Linked DNA regions of Homo sapiens: region 1 is linked to region 2. The links come from fine-mapping of genetic effects on gene expression. A gene starts in region 2. The other region holds a variant in brackets. All regions are shown on one strand. Distances are from middle to middle.

Region 1 (10,394 bases), 79 kb after region 2:
TGTTTGTAACTCAAAGGATAAGTGCTTGAGAGGATGGATACCCCATTCTCCATGATGTGCTTATATCTCATTGCATGCCTGTAATCAAAACATCTCATGTATGCCATAAATATATACACCTATATTATTTACATAATCATTAATTATGTACCCACAAAAATTTTTAAAAGGCCAGGAGTGGTGGCTCACGTCTGTAATCCCAGCACTTTGGAAGGCTGAGGCGGGCGGATTATGAGGTCAGGAGATCAAGACCAGCCTGGCCAACATAGTGAAACCCCCGTCTCTACTAAAAATACAAAACTTGCTCTCCCTCTCCCTCTCCCTCTCCCTCTCGGTCTCCTTCTCCCTCTCCCTCTCCCTCTCCCTCTCCCTCTCCATCTCCCTCTCCCCACGGTCTCCCTCTCCCTCTCTTTCCACGGTCTCCCTCTGATGCCAAGCCGAAGCTGGACTGTACTGCTGCCATCTCGGCTCACTGCAACCTCCCTGCCTGATTCTCCTGCCTCAGCCTGCTGAGTGCCTGCGATTGCAGGCGAGTGCCGCCATGCCTGACTGGTTTTCGTATTTTTTTGGTGGAGACGGGGTTTCGCTGTGTTGGCCGGGCTGGTCTCCAGCTCCTAACCGCGAGTGATCCGCCAGCCTCGGCCTCCCGAGGTGCCGGGATTGCAGACGGAGTCTCGTTCACTCAGTGCTCAATGGTGCCCAGGCTGGAGTGCAGTGGCGTGATCTCGGCTGGCTACAACCTCCACCTCCCAGCCGCCTGCCTTGGCCTCCCAAAGTGCCGAGATTGCAGCCTCTGCCCGGCCGCCACCCTGTCTGGGAAGTGAGGAGCATCTCTGCCTGGCCGCCCATCGTCTGGGATGTGAGGAGTCCCTCTGCCCGGCTGTCCAGTCTGGGAAGTGAGGAGCCCTCTTCCCGGCTGCCATCCCGTCTAGGAAGCGAGGAGAGTCTCTGCCCGGCCGCCCATCGTCTGGGATGTGAGGAGCCCCTCTGCCTGGCTGCCCAGTCTGGGAAGTGAGGAGCGCCTCTTCCCGGCCGCCATCCCATCTAGGAAGTGAGGAGCGTCTCTGCCCGGCCGCCCATCATCTGAGATGTGGGGAGCGCCTCTGCCCTGCCACCCCGTCTGGGATGTGAGGAGCGCCTCTGCCAGGCTGCCCCGTCTGAGAAGTGAGGAGCCCCTCCGCCCGGCAGCCGCCCCATCTGAGAAGTGAGGAGCCCCTCCGCCCGGCAGCCGCCCCATCTGGGAAGTGAGGAGCATCTCCGCCTGGCAGCCGCCCCGTCCGGCAGGGAGGTGGGGGGCGTCAGTCCCCGCCCAGCCAGCTGCCCCGTCCGGGAGGGAGGTGGGGGGGTCAGCCCCCGCCCAGCCAGCTGCCCCGTCCGGGAGGGAGGTAGGGGGTGCCTTAGCCCGGCCAGCCGCCCCGTCTGGGAGGTGGGGGGGCGCCTCTGCCCAGCCGTCCCTTCTGGGAAGTGAGGAGCCCCTCTGCCCGGCCACCAACCCGTCTGGGAGGTGTACCCAACAGCTCATTGAGAACGGGCCATGATGACAATGGCGGTTTTGTGGAATAGAAAAGGGCGAAAGGTGGGGAAAAGATTGAGAAATCGGATGGTTGCTGTGTCTGTGTAGAAAGAAGTAGACATGGGAGACTTTTCATTTTGTTCTATACTAAGAAAAATTCTTCTGCCTTGGGATCCTGTTGATCTATGACCTTACCCCCAACCCTGTGCTCTCTGAAACATGTGCTGTGTCCACTCAGGGTTAAATGGATTAAGGGCGGTGCAAGATGTGCTTTGTTAAACAGATGCTTGAAGGCAGCATGCTCGTTAAGAGTCATCACCACTCCCTAATCTCAAGTACCCAGCGACACAAACACTGCGGAAGGCCGCAGGGTCCTCTGCCTAGGAAAACCAGAGACCTTTGTTCACTTGTTTATCTGCTGACCTTCCCTCCACTATTGTCCTATGACCCTGCCAAATCCCCCTCTGCGAGAAACACCCAAGAATGATCAATAAAAAAAAAAAAAAAAAAGAAAAAAAATACAAAACTTAGCTGGGCGTGGTGGCGCATGCCTGTAATCCCAGCTACTCAGGAGGCTGAGGCAGGAGAATCTCTTGAACTAGGGAGTCAGAGGTTGTAGTGAGCCGAGATCGCGCCACTGCACTCCAGCCTTTGCAACAGAGCAAGACTCCGTCTCAAAAAACCAAACCAAAACAAAAAAATTAGAAAACACAACCAAATTGGCCAAAATCCTGTGTAAATAATGTATACCTTCATACTATTATTTAAGATAACTTAGAATGTTCCTTGCTCTCAAGGGTCTCCCTTCCTTACTTCCAACATGTAATTTATTCTACATAGACTATTTTTAAACTCAAATATTCCTGAAAAAGAGTAACCTATTTAAAAAAAAGCATCTTGAGATGGTTTACATTTACTGCTTTCCTTTACAACAAGAGAGGCCTTAAGAGGAAGGGAAAGAAAACATTTCTCTGTTTCTACTACTTTGTGTCATTTAATGCTCAAACCAGGTTAATAAAGTAGGACTGGTTATTTTCCTCTTGAATATGAGGAAACAGAGACAGGTTAAGCAACTGAGACCAGATGAACAACTTGTATGTGGGAAACTGGGTTTTGTTTTCAGGAATAATGCTTTCCTACTATACCATGCTGCCTACCAGGAAGAGACATAATTCATGAAAGAAGGAAAAGAAAGGTAATACGAAAGAACAACTAACTCTATTAACTTCCTAATTTTGTTCAAAACTAGCCTGGGCTATCAGTGTAACTGATCTCTTTCACTGGAAATTGTTCTCGGGTGTGAAATGGCTGATGTAAAACATATCAAATCTAATTTAAATATTTAATCTATATTGAACTGTCCCTACCAAAAAAAACATATATACTTACAGAAAAAAAAAAGCAACTGAATCCTTTTGTAACTGTACAACTATTATGGGAAAAGTGCCTAATTGATTCATCTGAAGAAATCCTCTGCCTCTAGCCATTATGCCCGCAGCACCTCCTACGGATGGGCTCTTTCCTATGAACAAGAGGAAAACAATACCCAGGCTTACGTTTCCTAAGTCATTTCAGTGTTTCAAATTCTTGCTGTTAGTAATTTCTTGTGCAGGCATTAAAAAAATTCATCTTGCTGGTCACTAGGAATGATTTTCAGAGTAGGGAGAGAGTAACTGGCCACTATCCTTCAAATACTAGAAGATTCTCATTGAGCTTTCTTTCCCCAGGTGAAATAATTCTTTCATCCTATCTCCTAAAATAACCAGAATTTTCTTAGCATTTAGTAAGAAATGTCAGAAAGCAACAATTCATCTGAAACTATTTAGTATCAGCTCAGATTCATAATTGTCAAATAGATTTGCCAATATCAAACATAAACATAAAATTGGGTTTCTGAGTTTAGTGCAAATTAAGCTAAAATAACCCAAAGTGATATTTATTAAAATAGGAGAAGATGTAGCTATGTTACTCAGATTTTAAAACATATCTTATCATAGTATTTTAATTTTCTGGACTCACTTATAGAAAGAGAGATACAGATAAAGATAGAGATAGGGAGAGCTAGAGGAAAAATAGAAAGGTGTAGATCATAAATTCAGGCTATTTCTGAAGAAAATATAAAACAGCTGCTAAAATTAGTATAAGTAGCTATCACATAAAATATTCACGTCACTTATTTTATTGTGTTTTGGAGGTTACCTCATTTTTAACAGCTTTACTGATATATAATTTGCATACCATATAGTTCACCTGTTTAAAGTATATAATTTAATGGATTTTAGTATATTTATAGAGTTGTGCAATCATCACCATTAGCTAATTTTAGAACATTTTCATCACTCCATAAAGAAACCGCATGCCCTTTAGCAATCACTGTCTGTTTCCTCCCTTACTCCTCCATTCATTCCTAGGCAACACTGATCTACTTTCTGTCTCTGTAGATTAGCTTATTCTGAACATTTCTTATAAACGAAATCATGCACTAGTTGGTCTTTTGTGACTGACTTCTTTTACCTAGTGCACGGTTTTTGAGGTTCATTCATATTGTGGCAAATAACAGTATATTATTCGTTTTTATTGTAGAATAATATTCCCTTATATGGCTACACCACATTTTATTTTTCCACTCATCAAGTGATAAGCATTTTGGTTGTTACCACTTTTTTGGCTATTACAAATAATGCTGCTATTTATGTTTGTATATAGTTCTTTGTGTGAACATAAGCTCCCATTTTTCTTGGGTAGATATCTAGGAGTGGAATTGCTGGGTCATATGGTAACTCTATTCTTAACCTTTTGAGGAACTGCTAAACCATTTTCTAAAATGGCTTCGACTTTTATAACACCGTCACAATGTACAAGAGTTCCAGTTTCTCAAATTTTCACTAACAATTGTGTCTGTTTTTATTATAGCCATTCAGTTGATGTGAAGTGGTATCTCACTGGGGTTCTGACTTGCATTTCAGTAATGACTAATGATTTTGAGCATTACTTTGTGTGTTTATCATTTTTATATTTCTCTGGAGAACTGCCTATTCAAATGCTTTGCCCATTTTTAAATTGGTTTGCTTGTTCTATTATTGTAAGAATTCATATATTCTAGATTCAAGTCCCTTATCAGATACATGATGGGCAAATATTTCCTTTTATAGTGTGGGTTGTCTTTTCACCTTCTTGATGGTGCTCTTTGAAGCATAAAAGTCTTAATTTTGATGTTCAATTTACCAATTTTCTATTTTATCACCCATGCTTTGATTTCATTCCTAAGAAATCACTGCCTAACGCAGAGATTTACTTTTATTTTAGTTGTAGGACTTACATTTAGGTCTGCAATCACTACTGTGAGTTCATTTTTGTGTATGACATTATGTAGGACCCTAAATTCATCTTTTTGCAAATGGATAACCAGTTGTACCAGCACCATTTCTTGAAGAGTATTCTTTCCCCCATTGAATTGACTCGCCCCTTTGCCAAAAATCAATTAACCAAAAATACTAGATTAATTTCTATATTATTAATTTTATTCCACTGATCTATGTATTTATCCTGTGTCAGTACCACACTGGCTTGATTATTGTAACTTACTATAGCAGGTTTTCAAATTGGAAGTATAAGTCCTCCAAGTTCATATACCTTTTTCATGATTGTCTTGGCTAGTCTGATCCCCTTGAATTTCCATATGAATTTTAAGATCAGGTTGTCAATTTCTCCAAAAAACAAATAACTAGATGGGATTTTGTTAGGGATTGCATTGAATCTGTAAGAGGTTAACTCTTTGATATCTTTTATTAGATATAAACTATCATGGTTATAATAAATGGCTAATTATTTTGAATTTGATAAAAAGTTAAAGAGATATGGTTGTACTTTATAAGTAGTTGGCAGCAATAACACAGCAATTTCAAAAACATTACAACAAGGTTACATTCAGTGTTTGTGATCATTTTAACTTTAATATATTAAAAATTGCTTGAGATAAGACCTTCAAAAATCAAAAAACCTATGGCCATTAAAGGTCTTAAAATTGGTCTGGAATCAACTGTAAAGGAATCACATAAATTCTCAACTCTATAGAATGAAATAAAGCCTTGTATGTGTTTCATTGAAATGTAAACAAGTCACACGATACCTTTGTTGTGGTCTGTTACTCAACAATATAGAAGTCAAGTAATATCAGATTA[T/C]ACAATAGTCTAAGAAAAACCACTTCCCTCTTTGACCTAGTTTCAAAAGCATTTTCTCTTGGCTTTGAAGATGAATAAATATGCTTGTTAAAGTATTAGGTCAGGCCATCCACTCTTAGTAATGGGTTCTATTAATTATCCTTTAGTCTGTGTTAAAGCAATTTTTAAATTTTAGTTGGAAAGAAGATGCTTTATTGTATAAGCCTTTTAATTTCTCATTTACTTACTAAATGATTATATATTGATTGCCCAGGGGATCTTTCAGTATCTTTAGCCTTTGATTATCCTTTTTAATATGAACAGTAACTTTACAGATAATCCCACAGCTAAACAAATATCATGCATTGAGATGCTTGAAAATAATTTTTTGTAGCCCCCCTGGTTATTTCATAAAGTTTAAAGACTGGAATGACCATTTTCTTCAATGAAGGCTTTTCAAAAAAATAAGCTATTATTATCCATTACATTTTTAAAGCACCATCATATTTATTATTTTAGCCAGTTATAGAAGATAAATTTTAAAATTTTTGCCTTGTAACAGCTAAATGCAAAGTGTTAGCCAGGATCCTTAGTTCCATTAAGACAGAAAATATTGGCGGAGATATTGTGATTACTTTATTTTCAAATTGGTTGGATGATCCTAGCTCCAGATGCACTGGAACTGTGAAGCTGACTGGAGGAAATTAGTAATTTCATGTTCTTTGTCCAGAAAATTGTTCAGTGGTTCCTGAACATCTTAGTACTTGAACTATATCTTAAGTTGATGTGCTAATTGAATAACAAAAATTCTAAGATAAGAATACATTTGCAAATATAGCATACCCCTACTGCTATTTTGTAAAATTTATAACTGGTTTTAGAAATGGTTAACTTATCAGTATCTAAAAGATTATGCCTAAAGAAACTGGCAAGTTGTTTATCCTCTCAGTAGCTTAGTAATGAATCATTTTTTTAATTGAGTTTTATATACGAGGCAGTCGATAATGCTAGTATGAATATCCAAATCATATGTAAACTTATCAGATTATTCACAACTAAAATAAAAATACCAGAAAACTTCATTGATTATAAAAAATTACTTTCTTATGAAAGAGAGTAAATAAACATTTATTAGCGTGTATCATTCTTTTGATATATCGTAGAATGAATGCTGTTTTACAAAATATTTAGCTTAGAGGAGTATTACTTCATTAAATTCAACAAAATATATCTTTAGCTTAAATAGTCAGTGATAATTTCTACAGTAATCTTTCAACCTGTTTCCCTCCCACTACTGTTACCTCTTTTTGTGAGTCTTTCACAACCTTATGAGTAAAGGGATGAGATGAGAACACCTATGTTTTAGAGAAGTTATGTAAGTTAATTGAAGTCACACTGCAAACAATGACAAATCCTTGATTCAAATTCAAATAGATCTAACTTAAAAATTACATGAATTTTTTTATTATACCATTACACTACAATTTTCTCTATAGCCAGTAGCAAAAGTGATAGTGGCTACTATCACTGCCACCATCACTACAATCTTGCCTCCTTATTTCTTGAGCTATACATCTAAAGCCTCCCATCAATGTAGCATGCATGTTCTAGGGCAATTTAAAGTAGAATTAGGGCTCCTAGGGGCCAGACCCTAACTTGAAAGTGACTTCAGACCTGTATATAAAAAAGCAATGGATGAGAATGTCTGCTCTGTGCAATAAAAGCCTCTGAGAAACAGGAATAAATCCAAGTAAAATGAACAGGTAAAGACGGTGTAACCCAAATGTTTTCAAATGTACCAGCTTTGTGGTCCCTTTGTATCAAAGGTACCTCTGCATCTTATAACTTTTTTCTCATAATTTTTTTCTTATGTCTTAGTTCATTCAGACTGCTGTGACAAAAATTCCTAGTCTTGGTGGTGTATAAAAACAGAAATTTATTTCTCACAGTTCTGCAGGCTGAAAAATGCAAGATCGAGGCATTGGCAGATTAGGTGTCTGGTGAGGGCCTGCTTCCTGGTTCATAGATGGTGCCTTCTCACTGAGTTCTCATATGGTAAAAGGAACATAGGAACTCTCTAGGGTCTCTTTTTTAGGGGCACTAGTTCCATTCATGAAGGTTCTGCCCACATAACCTAATCACCTCCCAAAAACCCCACCTCCTGACACCATCATATTGGGAGTTAGCCTTCAACATATGAATTTGGGGAAGACACAAAAATACAATCTATGGCACTAAACACTCAATGCACATTTATGAGCAGTTCAGATTTTACTGAAGATTCGGTAGGGAAGATGGAGGAAGAGATTTAAATTGTATATTGCACCAAAACCTTTAAATGCTCCCATTATTTGTCTTCTTTTCCAAATCACTATTAGGATTTTTCCTCTTATCGTCTTTTACCACATGCTACTCAATCTTGTCAATTCTTTTATTTTATCTTCCTAATTTTCCCAGAATCTTCATATACCTCTCCCCTTTAAATTGCTGAAGGTTTCAGCTCTGCCTCAAGAACCACTCCTAAATTGTACCTCAAACTTCATCATACCCACAACAATAAAAATCTTTTAATTTATATTATCCAACCTCCATAAGAGGCAATGAGAGGTTATAGTATTTTTTTTTTTTTCGAGATGTAGTCTCACTCTGTCACCCAGGCTGGAGGGCAGTGGCGCAATCTCGGCTTACTGCAACCTCCGCCTCCTGGGTTCAAGTGATTCTCCTGCCTCAGCCTCCCAATTAGCTGGGACTACAGGCACGTGCCACCACGCCCGGCTAATTTTTTTGTATTTCTAGTAGAGGCAGGGTTTCACCGTGTTAGCGACGATGGTCTCAGTCTCCTTGACCTTGTGATCCTCCCACCTCGGCCTCCCAAAGTGCTGGGATTATAGGCATGAGCCACCACGAATAACCTTAGCTATTCCTAATCACTGTGCATGAACATGATGTGAACCAACATTATTCCCTATACATGCTATGCCTGTCTCCATGTTAACTTTGGCTGCCTTCACCTCAGTCGGTCTCTCCCCCTCACTTTTTAAATTCTAAACCTCAAGTCTAACTTGACCAAAACTTAGAATAGACTTTGCTTCCAAAAATGTTTTTCAATAACAATCAGTAGAGCCCTATTTATTTAGCATTTCTTATGTACTGAGCAGTACAGTGAATACTTTAGAAATAATCACATTTAAACCTCCAAACAGGTCTGTGAAATGAATACTATTTTTACATCTGTCAATTGGCTTTTTCCTTGTCTTGAATTAAGACTCATATTGGCACTCATATCTTCTGGTGGGAAAGAGAGAGTGTGCTCACTAAGCAGCCAGGAACATGTTGCTGAACAACAGAAGAGATGTAGGTAACAATTACTCAAGGCCGACCTTGATCTCATATCTAAATAGTTTAACGAGACAAAGAAAGTATCATTGCGCCATATTTAAATTTAATTCGCCGAGGTTTATGCAGTGCCTAGTAACTTCTGCAATGGTGTTACCTGCATAATTATTCCCGATCTTCATAGCAACTCGGTCTGAGAAACAAATATTGTTATGATCCCATTTTTACAGACAAGGAAAGGAGATGTGGAGAAACTAACCAAAAAACCTGCTCCAAATGTCAGATGTAAGAGGGAAATCTTTATTATATTCCTCCATGCATACTTCACACACTTTGAAGTATGTGAATATATATTCTGACATATATATTGACATATATGTCATGTCATATGACATATATAGACATGCTGACATATATATTGACATATATGAAGCATGACAATATATATGCTGCATATGCAAACAGTACCACATGTGTATACATGTGTAATTGTGTGTGTCCCAAAGAAATGACGGCAACTGGCTTCTGAGGCTGATTTACTTGATACAGGCTGATTTACTGAGGCTGATTTACTTGATACAGAGACTAATAGTAGCATAACAGTTGCCCCTTCAAAAAGTAAAAAAATCTGGTACAGTGAATTGAGCCAGAAATTTATAATCACAAAATGAAAAATATACTTAACTTCATCATCAAAACTCATATTTTTAGATATAAGCTAGCATTAGTTATGATTGGATTTTGTGTTATTTCAAAAAGTACAATTTTATTTTGATTTGTATATGGGTGAGTATTGAGACTGTGAGTACCACAATCTTTTCAGAGATAAGGAACTCTAACATTTTTAACAGAGACCTATTAATATTGACTACACCTCCAAGGTATATGGCAATGAGAAAAGAAAAATAGGGTGGTAGGTAGTTAGGGAAAAAATGTAAGTAAAGAACAATCAGAATGGTTTGGAAAATTTATGCCAAGATAACATAACATATATTATATAGTTAGACATGTAGATATAGAACCAAGTAAATATGAACTACAAAGCACAGATCATATTTAAGATACAAAAGAACTTTTAATATGTGAGTGATGACAAGTATAACAATAGCTAACTTTTTAAAAAAACATACAATATGCAAAGAACTATATATGCATCATCTCATTTAATCCTTACATTTCTCCGTAAGTTATTATTATTATCATCTGCGTTTTAGAGATGAGAAACTAAGACTTAGGGAGGTTATAAGAATAGCCCAAAGTCACCTAGCTTGTAAGTGGTGTGGGCAGGATTTCCAAAGTATGGCCACCAGTAACAGCATTCTCTCAGACAGAAAGGAAAGTTGAGGGTGGAAGAAAGATTAAACATGAAGTTGCCAATTCGAATG
Region 2 (10,394 bases):
TAAAATAAAGAAAAAAAACTTTTTTTAGATATGGAAGTTTCCTTTAACCTAAAAGAAAATATTCTAAAAGGATATTACTGTTCATTCTCATCTCCCCATTTGGTCACCATAAAAATTAAATTCCTAATAGACCAGAGTTTCAAATGGAGAACTTCTTGGTTTGCTGGGTTATGCACCCTGCTGAGACAGGCTGGGAGAATCACCATTGTCTTCGATGATGGAAGATTCTTTGCTCTCCCCACGAGCAAAGCATTCCTTGACACAGAGCCAAAATGATGAAGAAAATAAAGTTGGTCCCATAATAACATTTAGGCTGCAGGAAAGAAGCTCAACAAAAACAAGTTATCCCCTGGTACTCCCAAACTTTGTTTTAATTTCCCACAGTGGCACAGAAAGTCTGGCCACAAGTTACCTATCATCTTAATTTCTCCTTCTTAGAGGGTTTGTGTTTGGTTTTTGTCCTTAATGAGACATATTTGCCAAAGAGGCATTCAAAAGGCATTTTTTACTCTTGCGGAAGAGTAATTAGGTCGGTACCTCTTTCCCTGCCAGCATTAGCCGCTCTAAAGAGAACCCTGCCCAGTATTTAATGCCCAAACACAAGAAGCATCATTTCCACTAATTGGTCTTGAAGTTCCGATGTTCCCAAAGGGTCCCTTTATTTTGCAAGGATCAGAAAGGACATACGTAAAATGTGATATTGTCATCGCTGACTTTTATCTCTCTCATCTGCACTATTACAGTGGTCCTCTCTTATGTTTTTGCAAGCAACATCAACACAACACCAACAAAGGAGGTAAATAAAGGATTTGCATTTTTACAACAGAAGACATCTCCGGGCCAAGTTCAAATGTTGGAATGGAAATCTTTATAAATATGAACATGAACATAAACATATAGCATATATAAAAATTTGATTCCCTTGATGATGTTCAGTGTTCAGTGCATGGGGAAAAAGGAAATGCTGCTTTAGCATGTGGACTGTGAAATGCAGGGCAAGGGGGAGAAAAGAACCATTCATCAAGTAGAAGCAGAAAATACAGCATATACTACTAACCTTGTTTCTTGTTTTGGGATTTTATTTCTTTTTCTTTTCCACAGCCTGAGAAAGCCTTGTGGACAATATATCACATAATCTCATAACAGAAACTAAAGCAAATTATAAAAATGAAGGGTGGGTGTGTGGTAGCAGAATTTTCACACATACTACTTGCTATCCAAAGCCCTGAAAATGGCTTTATTAACTATCAGGAAGTTTCAAATTCTTTGACATAATGACCAGGCTACATCAATGTCCTTAGAAACATGGCCAAACTATCATTAAGAAGAGATTTAACCATTTATATTCAGATTGGCCAAATAAATCAGAGTTGAAGAATAGGCTACGTACTCCTTCCTCTGAGCTCAATTCCCTTTTAGCTATTCTCTTTTTAATTTGTACCTTGAAAATGTAGCTCTAAGCTCTATCATTCCCCAATGTTTTATCCAAGTGATGGACAAGCTCTGGCTGTGGCCTGCTTTGTGTTCTTTTGGGACTGTTTCTCTCTTAAAAGGGCCATTTTCCATTGTGGAAACTAGTGTCAAAGGCTTGAGGTGAATGAAGAGGAGGAGGAGAATGTTAAAGAGACCCTTTCAAAACCAAAATTATATGTTCAAATGAATATGTTTTCTGTACCTCTGCAATATTAACCGTGCAGAAGCTAAACTGCCTGTCAGCATCTATACTGTGTGTTTACTTTTACACTTCATTTAGGTAAGAGCCAGGCTCCCAGACAGAGCAATTTGCTTATTGGTTGCATGTTTTTAGTCTCTGAGCGCCAGCACAAGGATATACTGTTCAGATGCAATGACGCTGACTAAAGAAACTTAAATAACAAACACCTTTTATTCACCTCAGGGTCTCTCACCAGTGTCTATAGACTTTCCTTTCAATCAAAATTGTACACAGAATCCATCTCTTACTAAACTCACATTATCTTTAAAGGCTTCTCCATAAAGTTAATTCAAATCCCTTTCAACCTTTTAAGAAAGGGTTTATTTAAAAAAAAAAGAAAAGAAAATATTTTGTTCTTTCTTTATTTCTGTGTTGCCCCTTGTGGAGGCAAAACACAGGGATAATACTTTTACTCCACTTTCTCTACATATCTTTCCAGGCATCTGACATGCAGCAACAAGGAGAATTAATAACAGTAAATCACATGTGTAGTTGTATCACATGAGCACACACCCCTCTCATCCTGGAAAACTTCACTTCTGGGGATGGGTAGCCTCAAAATAATGCAAGTCAGGGTTATGAAATAGTGTGATGCCATCTCAAACAGAACCTCTTACAACGTCTCTGGAAATGACTACACCCAAAGACAGTGGCACAAATGACAAGAGCATTCAGAGAAGTGATTCAACCTGGTTGAGAGATTCTGAGTGACCCTCAAATGCCACCACAGAAACCACCACCCTTGCCATACTTGAAGACAGAAAAGAGACCATCATTCAGTTGCAGCTGTGTTCATAATGTTTCCATTTATCACACACCCAGTCCAGTCTTGTTTCTGGATATGTGGGTCCTGGGGTTGCTTCTGCACATGGTAGCTATTACATAAATCATCAAAAGCAAACATAATAACATCAGTCGTGAACTTGGTCACTAATCAAATCAGTAGGCAGGGACAAAGAAATACAGAATAGGAATATACAAACCATATGCAAAAAGAAAAAACAAATCACTCATCCTTCCCAATTTCCTAGAATAGGAATAACAACATATTGCAACATAATGGAACACTATACATTGGTGAAAAAAACAATAAACTTTATTGAAGACGTATTTGTTTGCTTTTCCATTTTATGTTCAATAAGCTGCTTAATGGGAGAAACAACCTCACTTAATATTTGTGGGTAACATTACAGCCCCCATTGTTTATATGAGAGATGACTGTTTTTCATGTTTTTCTTAATGAAACATGACATTTATATAAGAAATATATGTATATAAGTAAAATTCTTCCAATAAGTTTTTTTTTTTTTACTTTATAGGCAAAAGGCAATTGTCCTTCCAAAAAGTAAGAGTTTAATATACTGAGATCAAATCACTGATATTTCCATGGTATCTGCTAACACGTATAAAATATGATGTTGAAGAGGGAACTTCCTAATTAATAATATGTCTGATATACTTGTGTACTCCTCCACCTGCCTCCAAATTGCCTTCCACTAAAACAAACCATTAAAAACTTCCCATTCAATGTATACTTTTGTGGAAATGAAATAATCAATTCAATATCTACTTTTCTAGATCTCCCGTCCTCACTGACATGCACAATATAAATGAGTTTTTACTGTTAGAACTTTGAGCACCAATTCATATTCTCATAAAAGAATTTCCATCTACTAATAAGAGCTCTTACTATTCACATTTTTAACAACAATAAACACAAACCCTCTTTGGGTTACTATCAATAATAAAGACGTGCATTGTGGTAAAATTTCCCTAGTTCACAACAGATATTTTCTTCTTGAACATCTGATTTTCAGAAGAACAATCCTGTCCTGAATTCTTTGTAATTTTACAAGTTACTTCTTCTCTTTTCTTGGCGCATGGTTTTAGTTTTCTAGTGTTTATTTATGGAGGATGCATTCCCTTGCGTCTCTATTATTTCGAGTTCCCCGTCTCTGGTTCTAAGGTGCTGCCTGCCTAAAACACACCACTTCACTGAACACCTGGCTTCTATATTCCTCTAAAATACAGATGTACAGTTGCTTTTTCTGGCATCTTGGGCAAGGTCCCACAACACTTTTAGGGAAACCAAGATTGTCTATTTTGATAACTACTTTTGCCAAAATAGTTCATTCTTCTCAAGCCTGGTTGAGGGGGTGGAGGGGACCTTTAGAAGTCATATGGGCATAGCAGGTGGGGGAAAACTGACAAAAGACCAGGGCGAAAATCATCCTCTGTGCCCCTGAAGATCTTAGTTGAAAATGCTCTACTAACATCTCTCACCAGCAAAAAGCCTGGAACACAGTATTTTTCACTTAGAAACTAAGATCACTACCTCTGATTTTGAGAGAGCAGCCCCTGGGCACTACCTGAGCAGGTAAGGGAGACCACTGCTCTAATGCTCATAACAGCTCTGAGATTTAATGAATCACAGACCCATCATCTCTTTCTAGGGCAACGTATTTTATTTTTGAGAAACAAAGTAAAGGAGGCTTCCCTTACAAATGCTGGATTTCTGACAGCTAGTTTTCAGACTTTTCTTTCGCAAGTTGATATCTAGTAACTCAGGATCACTGCCTGAAAATCGCTTCCAAAGGGTTCAAATTTGAATCAATGTAGAGGAGGTGGCACACAGCTGCTTGCTTTCATTAACTCTTACCTCTACCAGAAACCAAGCAGCTATGATGCCCAATCACAATTTCTATGACCACTTTCTTATCTTGTCAACTCTCTGAGAGTTCTGAGTAGCATTTCTCATTTCTTGCTTTTCAGTACCCACCCCTCGAACATACTTCCTCAGTGTACCTCAGCCTCCCATCAAGCAAAAAATCAAAATTCCAGTTTATGGCAAGAGCAGAATAAATGCAGCAGTCTCCTCTTCTCCATCATTTTCTGACTTTTCCCAAGTTATCGTACCAGCACAATGCCTTCTACTCCCAAATCACAGCAAGATATTAATAACCCTTAGTAGAAAGATTCCTTATTAGGTCACACAGAGTCATTATGGCTTAATAGCTGTCACCCTCCCAAGCTAACCTGTGCAACAGGTGTGGAAAGTAAACTTAGAGGCTCACTTGGCAACCCCACAAATAGGGCTTCACAGCTCTCCCCCCAATGCTCCCAATGGCCTCTGGTCCCCAGCATATGAGCCCCTGCCCCTGTAGACCTAGGGAGAAGCCCTTCTCAGCTCAGCTCACCTGTTTGTAGGCATCGAGGAGGAAGCTCTTCCAGACGCAGCGCAGTCCCTCTGAGGTCAGCATGCGCCGCCACTCTCCGCGAGTGGACTTGGAGCGGCTCAACAGCAGCACCACGTGCTTGAGCAGAATGACCGAGTCATAGAGAGCCAGGAAGAGGCAGTTGGAGAAAAAAACTGGCAGAATTTGCAGTGTGATCAGCAAGTCTACGCTGAGGATGCCCATCTTCTCTGCCTCCTGAGTCAGTTCCCTTGTGCGCTCTGGTTCCCCTTCACCCTCTTATTTAAAAGGGGGGTGGTGATAAAGGGGGTGGGGGAGGTAAGGGGGAAGGTTGGGGGTTGGGGGAGAAGGGGAAAAAAAACTAAATTAAAAGGAAGCCCAAGTTGTCTCCTCTTTCAAAGAAGCAGAAATGGCAAGACTAAGTCCAGTCTCTCCAGCCCAGCAGTTGGAGTGTGCCCATCAATTCATTCAATTCGGAGCTGCTGCCTTTTTTTTTTTTTTTTTTTTTTTTTCAGGATTTAAGATGTTAAAAAAAAAAAAAAAAAAAAAAAAAAAAAGCTGGCGTACTCGTCCCTAATCCAGTTACCTCTGTCAGAGTCCGTTAAAGACAGGCAGTTCTACTTTCATTTCCAAGCACCTATGAGACTGTGGCAGAGATTTTAAAATTTTCTTTAGCCTTTCATTGTCTCTATGCTCTTTAAACGTAGCCTGTTTCTTTCTTGAATTGCCAGAGTTTTTTTTTTTTTTAAATGTGCTTTAAGGGTAGTTTTTTTTTTTTCTTTCTTTACTCCGTTTTACACACACTTTCTGTGCTTCTCTTTCTCCCAGTCTCACTCTCTCCCTTCCCCAGGAGCGACTGACTCCTCTTTTTTCTCACTCTCTGTCTTTCCCTTCTTGCTATCTGTCTGTGGTGCAAAGTGCCTCTCTCTGCAGCCCAGTGAGTCTCCCTGACGCCTTTTATACATTCCCTGGCTAATTGCTGCAATAGAGAAGTGAAAGCCTAATCTTGGTAAAGATCTTGACGTCATTGAGAAAGAGGGCTTTACTTTGGCCAGGATTGCAGTGAATAGAAAAGCAAAACTCGACAACTTTTTTTTTTTAGAAGGGGTTGGGGAGAGACAGTGGAATTTTGCTTTGTGATTTAAAGAGAGAAAAAAACTAATACCCTTGACAGCCTTCAGGAAATGCTTCCAAACTTTGGGAAAAGTAATTTAATATAATGTGCAGATTGATATGGCCAACACTCTCTCTTCTGATTATCATTATCATTAATTTATGAGGGGTTTTGGAAAGAAAGGATCCTGGAAGGCAGGTAGAAAAAAGGAAGAGTTATCACAGGCGGTCTTTGCTCTGTTTCTTGGAAAATATGAACATTTATATACAATCTTTATACCTTTATACCATGACTCCAACCCTTTGTAAGATCTGTGACCTAGGTCCTTTAAATTTTTTTGAGTCATTATCTTATTTAAGAAAATGCAAAATGAGTTGTAGGTGGAAAACTTGTAAACTATTTGAGTACCATCCCAGCATTTCTTTAAAGCTTCTTGCAGAAACTTGAATACAGGTTTCTTTTTAGTTTTACCCAAGCTTCTAATGAAAAAAAAAAAAAAAATCCAAGTTCCTCCAGACAGGGAAGGAGCTAGGCGACATTCTTTTAGCTTCATTTTGCAGATAAAATTAAAACTTTCCATTGAATAGCATTAAGAAGCCATAAGGCTGAGAAATTATTAATGAAAGCTCTTTAAATTTGGTGTTTCACCTGCTTCTGTTAGCATAACCCCTAAGAGACCTGATACTTTAAGGAATCTTCCTTTTTGTTTGAAAAAAATTTTAATTAAATGTATGGGAAGTTAAGAGCCGACTGAATTGGTTCAAGGTGCCACATTGACCATTGTTCATTGGCTTGCCTCTCCCATGAGTCTTTAGGACAGGTATTTAGGCAGACAATGCTTTGGCAGAATGGCATGACCCCCACTTTATTCTACTTTTTCATCCTGTGTTACCTAATAGATCACTGAGTTTTCTCAGTGATAGATACTGAGTTTTAGATACTGGGTAATAGATAGCTGAGTTTTCTATGTAGCCAGAGCTTAGGCATAAGCTAAGCAGTAGGTGCAAGCTTGTGGTTAGCGTATTGCGTATTTTTTCCATGTGGCTAAAACCTTCATGATCACAGAAATAATTTAAAAGCCTAGACAAGAGTCATTAATTTGTCGTCCTGTTAGCTGAATTCTGCATATTAATGCATTTTGTTTGGTTGGCAGGTTGCTTTTTTGCCTTTAAAAAAACAATAATCAAAAAAGAATGCCTTTAGGTTCCGTGAGAGCAGGGATTCTTGTCCACTTTGTTCACTGCTACCTCCCCAACACCTAGAACCATGCTTGGCGCACAGTTGGCTCATTGAGGACGTCCTGAATGAATGAATGAACAGGGCATGTAGAGGGCCTCTGCATTGCTCTACACTAGGGGGCACCATTCACATACAATATGATGTGAATGGGGGTGCCCTGGAATTGTAAAACGTGGTGGCCTTGTGCAATGCCCTCTCTTGTGACACAACCCTCAGCATTCCCTACAAATTCTTTCATTTTTTTCATTAGTTTGGCTCCTAATGAGTTTTGAATTTGCATCTCATGGACGAAATTGTTAAAAGACTTCAAAGCTTAGAAAAATAATATAAACCACATAGAAAAATTACACCTTCCCTATGACTAGCATACAATGTTAGCAAAATAATATTACTAATATATGCAATGTACATTTACTGCATGTATCTTCTCAAACTACTCAATGTCCTTATGGGAAAAAAGAAAGAACAAAGGCAGGGAGTTGATAGCACAGTATTTTAACTGGTGGAGATGTGAAAGCTATATTGCCATAGTTCCCACCAACAATGGCAGAAGGAGGTGTAGACTCAGGAAATGCTGCTTCCACTCAATTGCCCAGGCCTTAGAATCTCTCCCCTTCTCAGACCTTCATTCTACCTTGATTGAATTAAACCAGTGCTCCCCTGCAGTGGAGACTTCAGCAGCTTTAAACCAATTCTCTCTCACTTGCTTTTGCTCTGAAGGAGGAAAGTATGTTTGTAAATGGCAAGCTAAGGAGAGGGATTGATAGAAAATCAGAAAAACCTTTCTTTTAAATGTGAAGTTCAAAGCATATCCAGACTTTAAGTGGTTATAAGTTAGAATTAGGACTCTGTTGGGGGCTTTTGTTTCTTTTTATTTATTTATTTATTGAGGTTAGAAGTGTTTGAAGGGAATTTTTTTTTAAATAGGAGAACAAAAAGATACACAGCCAATCTGGTTATGTCATTTCTCAGATTTCTTCAATCATTTTTCTAAATGAACGATAAACACATCACAAAACTGAGGGCCATTCCTCTAGCAGATAGACAATCTGTCCATCCAAGAAATTACATTTCTCCAAAGCTATTTCTTTTTTTATGCATGGTGCACAATTGCTCATTCCAGTTATTAAGAATATTTACCACATTGATTTTCAAGTAATTTTATACTCATTAAGTAACAGAATAATCCTAAGGTGACAGAGTATGACTTTTCCCATCATATAGATGAGAGAAAGCAGATTACCAAAATTAGGGAGTCCAAGCGGGTGTTGGGATATTTTCCCTAACTCTAAATAAGCCTCACTTTTTTTCTTTAATGTCTGTTATGGGTCCTGGTCATTACTATGAGAACCAAAACCCTTGTTGAAAGTGGTTTGCTAGTAATTTAATCTTCAAAATGGCAAAGGCTGTGAGGACTTCACATCTGTTTAAGACTGTCCCGACTCAGGCTCCTTGTTTAGATTTCATATGTTCTTTCAAAGGGCTTGGCTATCTTCTTGGTCATGTATGTGTTCTTAGCAATCAACATGTAATGAGTTAAATGCAAACCAACGAGGGGCATGTCGGTTGCATTTCCCCATACGATATTCCACACGGGTTTTAAATTCCAAAGAGAAGCAGCCTAGGGCAAAATGCTTTGGGCTTTTTATGAAAAAACCTTTGCAAAATTGTTTAACTTTTTTATATTCCCATAGTAAAAGAGCATCATGTCCTACTGTTGCCTCTTTCTGGTTGGAAAATAACAAGCATATGAGTCACAAGACTTTCTTTAGTCCTCTTCTTGACTCTAAAATTGAGATTGAGAAAATAAAGTTGGATAATCTGAAAGCAGACTTGGAAATTTTAAGCACAACAGTTGCCATTACTATTTCCTTATTCTTATTTGAAAGAGCAGAAGAGCATCCAGACAGTTCTGTCATGTTAACAACTCATACCATGGACTTTCAAGCTGCCTTTGTTTCGTGGAATTTTATTCTTTCTAATTCCAGTGATTTGTCAAGTGCATAATTTAAAAAATGGCATTTCATTTTTACTTTCTTAAAAACATGTCAAATAAACACATTATAAATCCAAAAATGTCTGGAAACAGCAGGCATGCTGATTTTGGATTTGAGAATATGGTTGCCATACATAACGCCTAAAACAGCGCCGCTCTTATCAGAGCAAGGAATCACAAACTGTATAACCTACTGCCTCCAGTGACTCTGCCTGACAGGGAGTTATGACGAACGGCTTACACCACAACTACTGAATCACTCAAAATTCCCTGTGGGCCCATCCATTCCACAAACACAGCCGTGTTCTCTGCCTTGTGATGAAAGGAGAAGCTCAATGGATAAAATACACAATCCCAGAGTAAACTCTGACACACCTTGAGCAAAGCAACTTGGGGGCGGGAGGGCAGGCTGACGCCTTGGGAGGTATGAGCATTCTCTCCCAGCAGCCCTCTCCGTAGGTTCCTCTGCAGTGCTGGCAGACAGCACCCATCCGAGTTGTTAATGCATTCTTCCCTCAGGAACTGTTGCTTCTCTTTTTTTTCCAGGCTACCTACTGGTAAGACAGAGGGGGAGAAAAAGACAAAGGAAATAAAAAGGAGAGGGAAAGCAAAAATGAAGAGAAAAAGGGAGATAAAGATGGTAGGAGATAGGCAGGGAAAGAAAAGATTCAATGAGTTGCCAGTGGAGGCCACCAACAAAGAGCCAGTTAATGCTAATTGTGGCGATGCTCTTTGTGAGGCAACAGCTGTCCGGTATCTGGATGAAAGCCACCACCGCATTTCACAGAGGCCACAGAACAGCTGTTAGGAGACAACAATATACTTCACTTAGGATTGGCCTAGTCTGGATCCACATTGATAGCCAATCCCCTCTCCCCACTGCCCAAACCTCTCCAGGTGCCTTGACTCTTATTTGGTTTTGAGAACAGTTTATCAGCCTCTAGAGACACCCAGAGTTTGGGATGCTGTGGGAAGAGGGGTGGTAGGGGAATTGAGAAGAAGACTTTGTAAAGTTATACATGGTGAATTCATTCATGACCAAAAATAAATAAATAAATAAATAAAAAGCTGAAAATGAGGAAATTGAACTCACCCTTTCTTTTCTGAAACTGTGACTCAATCTCTTCTTTCTCCCTA

Direction of the effects. Alleles are on the strand shown, and positions count from the first base shown. SD is a standard deviation of normalised expression in the study named.
In carriers of allele C in region 1, the expression in sun-exposed skin of the gene that starts at base 5,165 in region 2 tends to be higher than with T alone (moderate effect, 0.55 SD a copy in GTEx).

What was found. PIP is the estimated chance that this variant, and not a neighbour inherited with it, causes the effect.
Region 1: its variant is fine-mapped to the expression of DIO2 in sun-exposed skin (GTEx, PIP 0.94).

What each region holds. Positions count from the first base shown.
Region 1 is chr14:80,285,612-80,296,005 of GRCh38, forward strand. The region is part of intron 2 of DIO2-AS1 (DIO2 antisense RNA 1); the gene reads left to right. Among named protein-coding and RNA genes, the nearest start is that of DIO2, 79 kb to the left of the region's middle. The variant T/C (reference allele first, on the strand shown) is at 5,695.
Region 2 is chr14:80,206,340-80,216,733 of GRCh38, forward strand. It overlaps DIO2 (iodothyronine deiodinase 2), which reads right to left and starts at 5,165. Exons shown (of 2, transcript NM_013989.5): 1 at 4,912-5,165. The coding sequence starts at 5,133. DIO2-AS1 (DIO2 antisense RNA 1) reads left to right here and starts at 5,080. Exons shown (of 9, transcript NR_038355.1): 1 at 5,080-5,149.